2 linked regions of the Homo sapiens genome follow. The protein of the gene in region 2 interacts with the protein of the main gene of each other region in a biochemical or structural test. Each region holds a gene or a part of one and is shown on either strand. Other genes may lie near its edges. The genes, in order: RAD51 and PARPBP.

Region 1 (3,833 bases), on a different chromosome or scaffold from region 2:
TCATGGGGATGGATTGCATGCTCTGTTCTCCAGCTTATTTGGCCCTTTCTACCTTGCCCTCCCAGTGCCATCATAGCCATCTTCTGTTACTGGATTGGGATACCATCAGGTTAGCTCTTCTTAATAACTGCTTAGGAGCATAATTTAACACTTCTCATTTTATAGTGATGCAGTATGTTTCTAACTTTTACCATTTTAATTATGCTTTGGTATAAATTATTTGTACATTTATCTTTGCATATATGTGAAATGTTCTGTAAGACAAATTTTCTGTCAAAGGGTATGTGATTTTTTTGTTTTGTGGTTTTTTGGTTTTTGGTTTTTTTTTGAGACAGAATCTTACTCTGTTGCCCAGGCTGGAGTGCAGTGGCACGATCTCAGCTCACTGCAACCTCCACTTCCCAGGTTCAAGCAATTCTCTGCCTCAGCCTCCCAAGTAGCTGGGATTACAGGCGCCCACCCCCACGCCTGGCTAATTTTTGTATTTTTAGTAGAGACAGGGTTGCACCATCTTGGCCAGGCTGTTCTTGAACTCCTGACCTTGTGATCCATCCACCTCAGCCTCCCAAAGTGCTGGGATTACAGGCGTGAGCCACCATGCCCGCATGGGCATGTGCTTTTAAAACTGGTACTTATGTTAAATTGTCTTCTCAGAACTGTTTTTATTTTTTAATTGAAATGGGATCTCGCCATATTCCCCAGTCTTGTCTGGAACTCCTGGGTTCAAGCAATCCTCCGGCCTCAGCCTCCCAAAGTGCTGGAATTACAAGCATGAGCCACCATACCCGGCCCAGAATTTTAAAACTACTGCAGTACTTTGAACAAGCATGGGCTAATTCATTTTGTAACCTAACTGTAGCTCTCAACTTTATGACTTTTCTATTAGAGAGAGACCTAACATATAATGGGGTTTTACTTCATTAAATTGAGAAAACAAATGAGAGTAGATAATATTTAGATTTAAGTAATAGTCTAACATCCTCTCTATATCCCTGGTTCCAGCTCTTAGGCTGATGAAATGTAATCTTTTCTATTATTAATTAATTAGCATTCTTTTTCTTTAAAAAAAGTCAACGATCTATATAGTTGTTCAGCCATCTGTAAATGTTATTTTAACAGGCTATATTTACTTGAGAATTTTGCTTTAGTTTATTGTTGACAGACATTATCTGACTACTTAAACATTCTCAGATTAGGATTCTATTTGTACAACTTTGGAGTGTCAGCATGCTATGCTGAGTTGCCATGGCAACTATAGATATTATGTACTGTAGTCTAAATACTTATTCTACATAAGTCCCTGTCAAAACATGGGAAAACATTTCTATTTAAAAAGGTCACATATCATGTCAAATGACGGATGTAAGAGTGACATTTTAAACAGCCCTAATTCCCTTTAGCTATCAAATTTCTAATGGAGCTCACGCAATAGCTATAGCTTCTATAACTTACTCTTCCTCTTCTCAATGTTTCCTCCCTTATTATCATAAAAGGTCTCCTAAGCATCCTCCTCCACCCCTCCCCCTCAGCTCTTTCTTCCTAATGATTATGAGGATCTGGGTGCAGAGGCATTCACCTGTAATCCCAGCTATGTGGGAGGCTGAGGTTGGAGGATTGCTTGCGCTCAGGAGTTCAAGAACAGCCGGTGCAACATAGTGAGACCCAATCTCAAAAAAAAAAAAAAAAAAGAATTTATTTCTGAGGAGAGTTAACAATGGATTAGGTCTACTCGATACTGACATGCTAGCTTGGCTGTCTCATAAGACATATGGCAGCCAGCCAGGCACGGTGGCTCACACCTGTAATCCCAGCATTTTGAGAGACCAAGGTGGGCGGATCACAAGGTCAGGAGATCGAGACCATCCTGGCTAATACGGTGAAAACCTGTCTCTACTAAAAATACAAAAAATTAGCCAGGCGTGGTGGCGGGCGCCTGTAGTCCCAGCTACTCGGGAGGCTGAGGCAGGAAAATGGCGTGAACCCAGGAGGCGGAGCTTGCAGTGAGCAGAGATGGCACCACTGCACTCCAGCCCAGGCGACAGAATGAGACTCCGCCTCAAAAAAAAAAAAAAAAATTGTAACATTTTGGTCTGCAAAGAAAATATCAGTGGAGCAATAAACAATTAAAATGACAACAAAAAGCCGGGCATGGTGGCTCACACCTGTAATCCCAGCACTTTGGGAGGCTGAGGCGGGTGGATCACCTGAGGTCAGGAGTTCAAGACCAGCCTGGCCAACACAGCAAGACCTTGTCTCTACTAAAAATACAAAAAATTAGCTGTGTTGGGTGGCAGGCACCTGTAATCCCAGTTTGGGAGGCTGAGGCTGGAGAACTGCTTGAACCCAGGAGATGGAGGTTGCAGTGAGCCAAGATTGCGCCACTGCACTCCTGCCTAGGCGACAGAGACTCCGTCTCAAATAAAAAAAAAAAAAAAAAGGAAAATAAGAAAAATGGGAGGCTATCAAGCTAGGTTACTTGATGTTAAATTTAAATAAACTTGGGCCAGGCACGGTGGCTCACTCCTGTAATCCCAGCACTTTGGGAGGCCAAGGCGGGCAGATTAACTTGAGGTCAGGAGTTTGAGACCAGCCTGGCCAACATGGTGAAACCTCGTCTCTACTAAAAATACAAAAATTAGCTGGACGTGGTGGCCGTCATGCCTGTAATCCCAGCTATTCGGGAGGCTGAGGCAGGAGAATGGCTTGAACCTGGGAGGCAGAGGTTGCAGCAAGCCAAGATCACACCACTGCACTACAGCCTGGGCAACAGAGCAAGACTCTTTCTCAAAAAAAAAAAAAAAAAAAGAAAAGAAAAGAAAAAAAAACTCAACAGAGTTGAGTCCCGAGGATAGAAAAACACTAGGAAGCCTCTTCTGTAACACTGATATAAGGCAGATTTTGTTTCAGTTGTTTTGATCTCCAACAGTAAGTTGTGCCCATGGCAGAAGTGGGTATAATCTATCTAGATTAAAATAATGCCATGTTTTTCAAAATAACTAAAATTATAATAAAGCTTCAAAAGATTATAACAGAAGAGTTGGTCCATGGGCATGGGCCAGGTTCAAGGATACTTTGTGGACTGGCCACTTATGCAGCACATCCTTAAAGCCAGAGAACATTAAGACTCACTTAGACAAGGAAAAACGGCTCCCCATTACACTGCCTGAAGTTGCAGAAAAGATGAAAGTTTGTTAGCTTTCTCTTCTATATCCTACTCCCTTCCTTTCTCATGGATCTTTCGTTTCCAGATTCCATTTTTACTTCTCTGTGTGACTTAGTTCCACATCTCTCAATACAGCTAGAAATTTTCACTCGGGGTTTGTCACCTCAAACCTGTCATCTCTAAACCTGTACTCATGTTTCCAACAAAACTGTCTTCCCCTCTCAAACACTTTTTAGGTTTACTAAGTTACTGTAATACATTGTTGGGCTGAGGTGTATTTTTTATTGTCAGTCATCAAGCGCTGCCCTTTACAACATCTTTTCCCTACTTCTCTTTATTGTCACTATCTTAGTTTCCTGACCAGCTAATGCTTACTCTTCATAAAATCAAGTTTAAACTTCTTAACCTTCTGAAATAGGATCTTAATTTTTTTTTTTTTTTTGAGATGGAGACAAAATCTTGCTCTGTTGCCCAGGCTGGAGAGCAGTGGTACAATCTTGGCTCATGGCAACCTTGGCCTCCTGGGCTCAAGCGATTCTCCCGCCTCCACCTCCCAAGTAGCTGCCACTACAGGCACAGCCCACGTCTGGCTAATTTTTATATTATTTGTAGAGATAGGGTCTTGCCATGTTGCCCAGGCTGGTCTCAAACTCCTGAGCTCAAGCGATCC
Region 2 (2,752 bases):
GCTTTGGCCAGTAATCAACTTGTCAGCCCTATTAAGAAATATTTGTTTGAATGCATGACATTTAATCCTTAAACATATGCTACAAATTACTTCTTAAATACATTTAGTTAAATCAAACTGTGTCCTATTCCTATCGATAAATTTGTACTTAGATTTAACTTTTTAAATAAACTGAGGTCTTTAAAAATATTACCCTTTACATTTCATAGTACTTTGCAAAAATAACCTAATTTTACTTAAGTTAAAACTAATTAGTAGACTAGAATTAAATTGTTATTTAATTGCACAAATAAGGTCAATTACCAGAAAGGTCATTTTCCATGTAAAGAACACACAAAGGCTTTGATGCTAAATTAACATTATTCCAATTATCCTTGCTTATCATGTAGTCATCTTTATAAGTACAAGCAAATTGGGATCTAATTAAAGTTTGCTTCATCTAGTAACAGAAAGAAAGAAGAAAATATGCAAATTTATTCATTATTTTATTTCTTCATCTAGATAGACACACACTCTATAGTAATCAAGGTATAAAAATTTCCCTTAGAAATTCTATTACTCATTGAGAACCTCTCTCTAACCTTTTATATTTCATAGTTTGCAAACTCATTCATTGTTATGGCTAGCATTTTTGTTCTTTTCCAAAATAATAGCTTTATGTATATTTTTGATTTTTTTTTTGGTAACAGTTACAAAACAATCAATTTTAGACTCTTCGCAGGGCTTTGTTACATGTTCCTGTGTCAGCACTGCTTTGGAGCGTCTTATTGTAAGTAAAATAACAATACAGGTGATATACATAATCATAGAAAAATACAAGTTCTTCATCCTAAGAAGAACACACTCTTGGAAAAAAAATAGCATATGGAATTCAAGAAATTAGGGAGGGAAGAAATGCTAAGATGAAAAAAAGAACTAAGTGAGGTCAATCAAAAACAGGAAACTAGCAAAGAAACTGCAAGATAAAACAAAATGATATAGGAAAGACATTATTTCTCGAGTATTTAGGAAAACAAGAAAGATGATTCAATGTATCAGTCTAGAAAGATTTGACCAAGTGACTTAATGGTCAGAAATCCAAAGTATACTCTTGCATTTATCTTCAAACATCAAATAGGAGGGCCTAACTTTCTACATAAATAGGAGAAAATTACAAAGATGAACTCAATTCTTGATCACTGAAAAGGATGCCAAAAAAAGTAGTTTTGGAAATTTGTTCCACAAACATAAACCAGTGAGCTATTGGGGATAGAAATTAATTTTAGAACAAAGTAGCCTATACAAATAATGCCAATTTCAACAATTACAAATGATGTGTAATACCATTCAGGTTTAATGGAGAGATGTCTCCAAATAATTAGAAGTCACCTGAAATCATTTTCTGACATAGACAAAGTTTCAAATACATAATTCAATAAAGATGACTTCAGTAATTCAAAAATGTAACACTTCGAGTATAACTACATTACCCTGATTATTACTTACAGAGTATTTGTTGATACAGTCATGAAATCTAAAACAGCATGACTTTATATATTCAGTAGTTATATATTATATGTTCAAAGATCGATGCATTAATTCACTCAGATGTTTGTAAAGACAATGGCAGTGAAATCTACTGACTATGACTTAGAAAAAGTTAGAATATTCGTCTGTCCAGCTGCTTCATAAAAGCAAGTTTTCCTAGGATGACAAATTTTCTATCTTTCTGACTAATGAGGTCTGTGACAGTCTCCATCTCCCAGATCACTAAAAATTATGTTTCATGTGCTTACATGAAGCATTAGACAATTGGAGTTTTATCTTCCATTTAAGCATAAAATGCACAAAACTGAAAATAAACGTGAAAATATACAAGATCAAAAACTATTTTTTTAAAAGTTGAACAGAATGGACTCACAACCCACTACCTTCATGAATCCCTATGAATGCAACACTTATTAAATAGCTTCTACCTCAAGATGCCCTATATGTAACTGAAGATTTTAAGTAGCTCTTTCTGGACTTTATTAATCCTATAACTACAGATTTAAAGCAGTAGATAAACCTATTTAAATAAGTTTTATTAATAAAATTGACTCTATATTATACTACATAATAGTAGCATTATCCATGAACTTTTATTTCCATCTGCAAAACCAGTACTAACTGTTGACATTATCTTATCACACATTATTTTCACTTCACAAAAGTTATGGCTTATAGAGAATTATAAACTTATTGCTTATAAAGAGTTATAAAGAGTATAGTAAGACCACGCAGGCAAATAGATGCTGAGTGGCTGGCTTGGATCACTCTTTGTAACCCAATAGTGATGGCACCTAGAGTTAGCTTGGGAGATGTTAGCTTCTCACTGCAAAACTCTCATGAGCACCACCCATAAAATATTCTAAATAAAAACATAATACTAAATAATAATTATATTATTTAGTACAGAAAACTAATGTTTCTTCAATCTCATGTTTAGCACAAACAAAAATTTCTTTAGAATGTTTTGTTACTTTTATTAATTTTTAACATATAGTCTAGGTAAAAAAATCTTTGCTTGCTATGCAAATAGTCACAAAATAAGCGCAATAGCTCTCCTTACAACTAGATTTCCTCAATTCAGCCTCCCCCACAGACAAATTCTAAACTCCTCAGAGACCCCAGTACAATTTCAGAAAACTACCATCACAAGGCAATGGATTCCTGAAGTACTGAAAACAAGTTCAGATGTAAAAGAAAAATAATTAATGACTTTCTCTACCAT

Evidence for each region.
Region 1: the proteins of PARPBP (region 2) and RAD51 form a complex in vitro, tested with the Homo sapiens proteins (one study listed by BioGRID).

The regions. Positions count from the first base shown.
Region 1 is NC_000015.10:40,711,850-40,715,682, reverse strand, and holds part of RAD51 (DNA repair protein RAD51 homolog 1), read right to left. Parts: intron 1-3,833.
Region 2 is NC_000012.12:102,192,999-102,195,750, reverse strand, and holds part of PARPBP (PCNA-interacting partner), read right to left. Parts: intron 440-2,752; coding exon 304-439; intron 1-303. UniProt on the Homo sapiens protein: Required to suppress inappropriate homologous recombination, thereby playing a central role DNA repair and in the maintenance of genomic stability.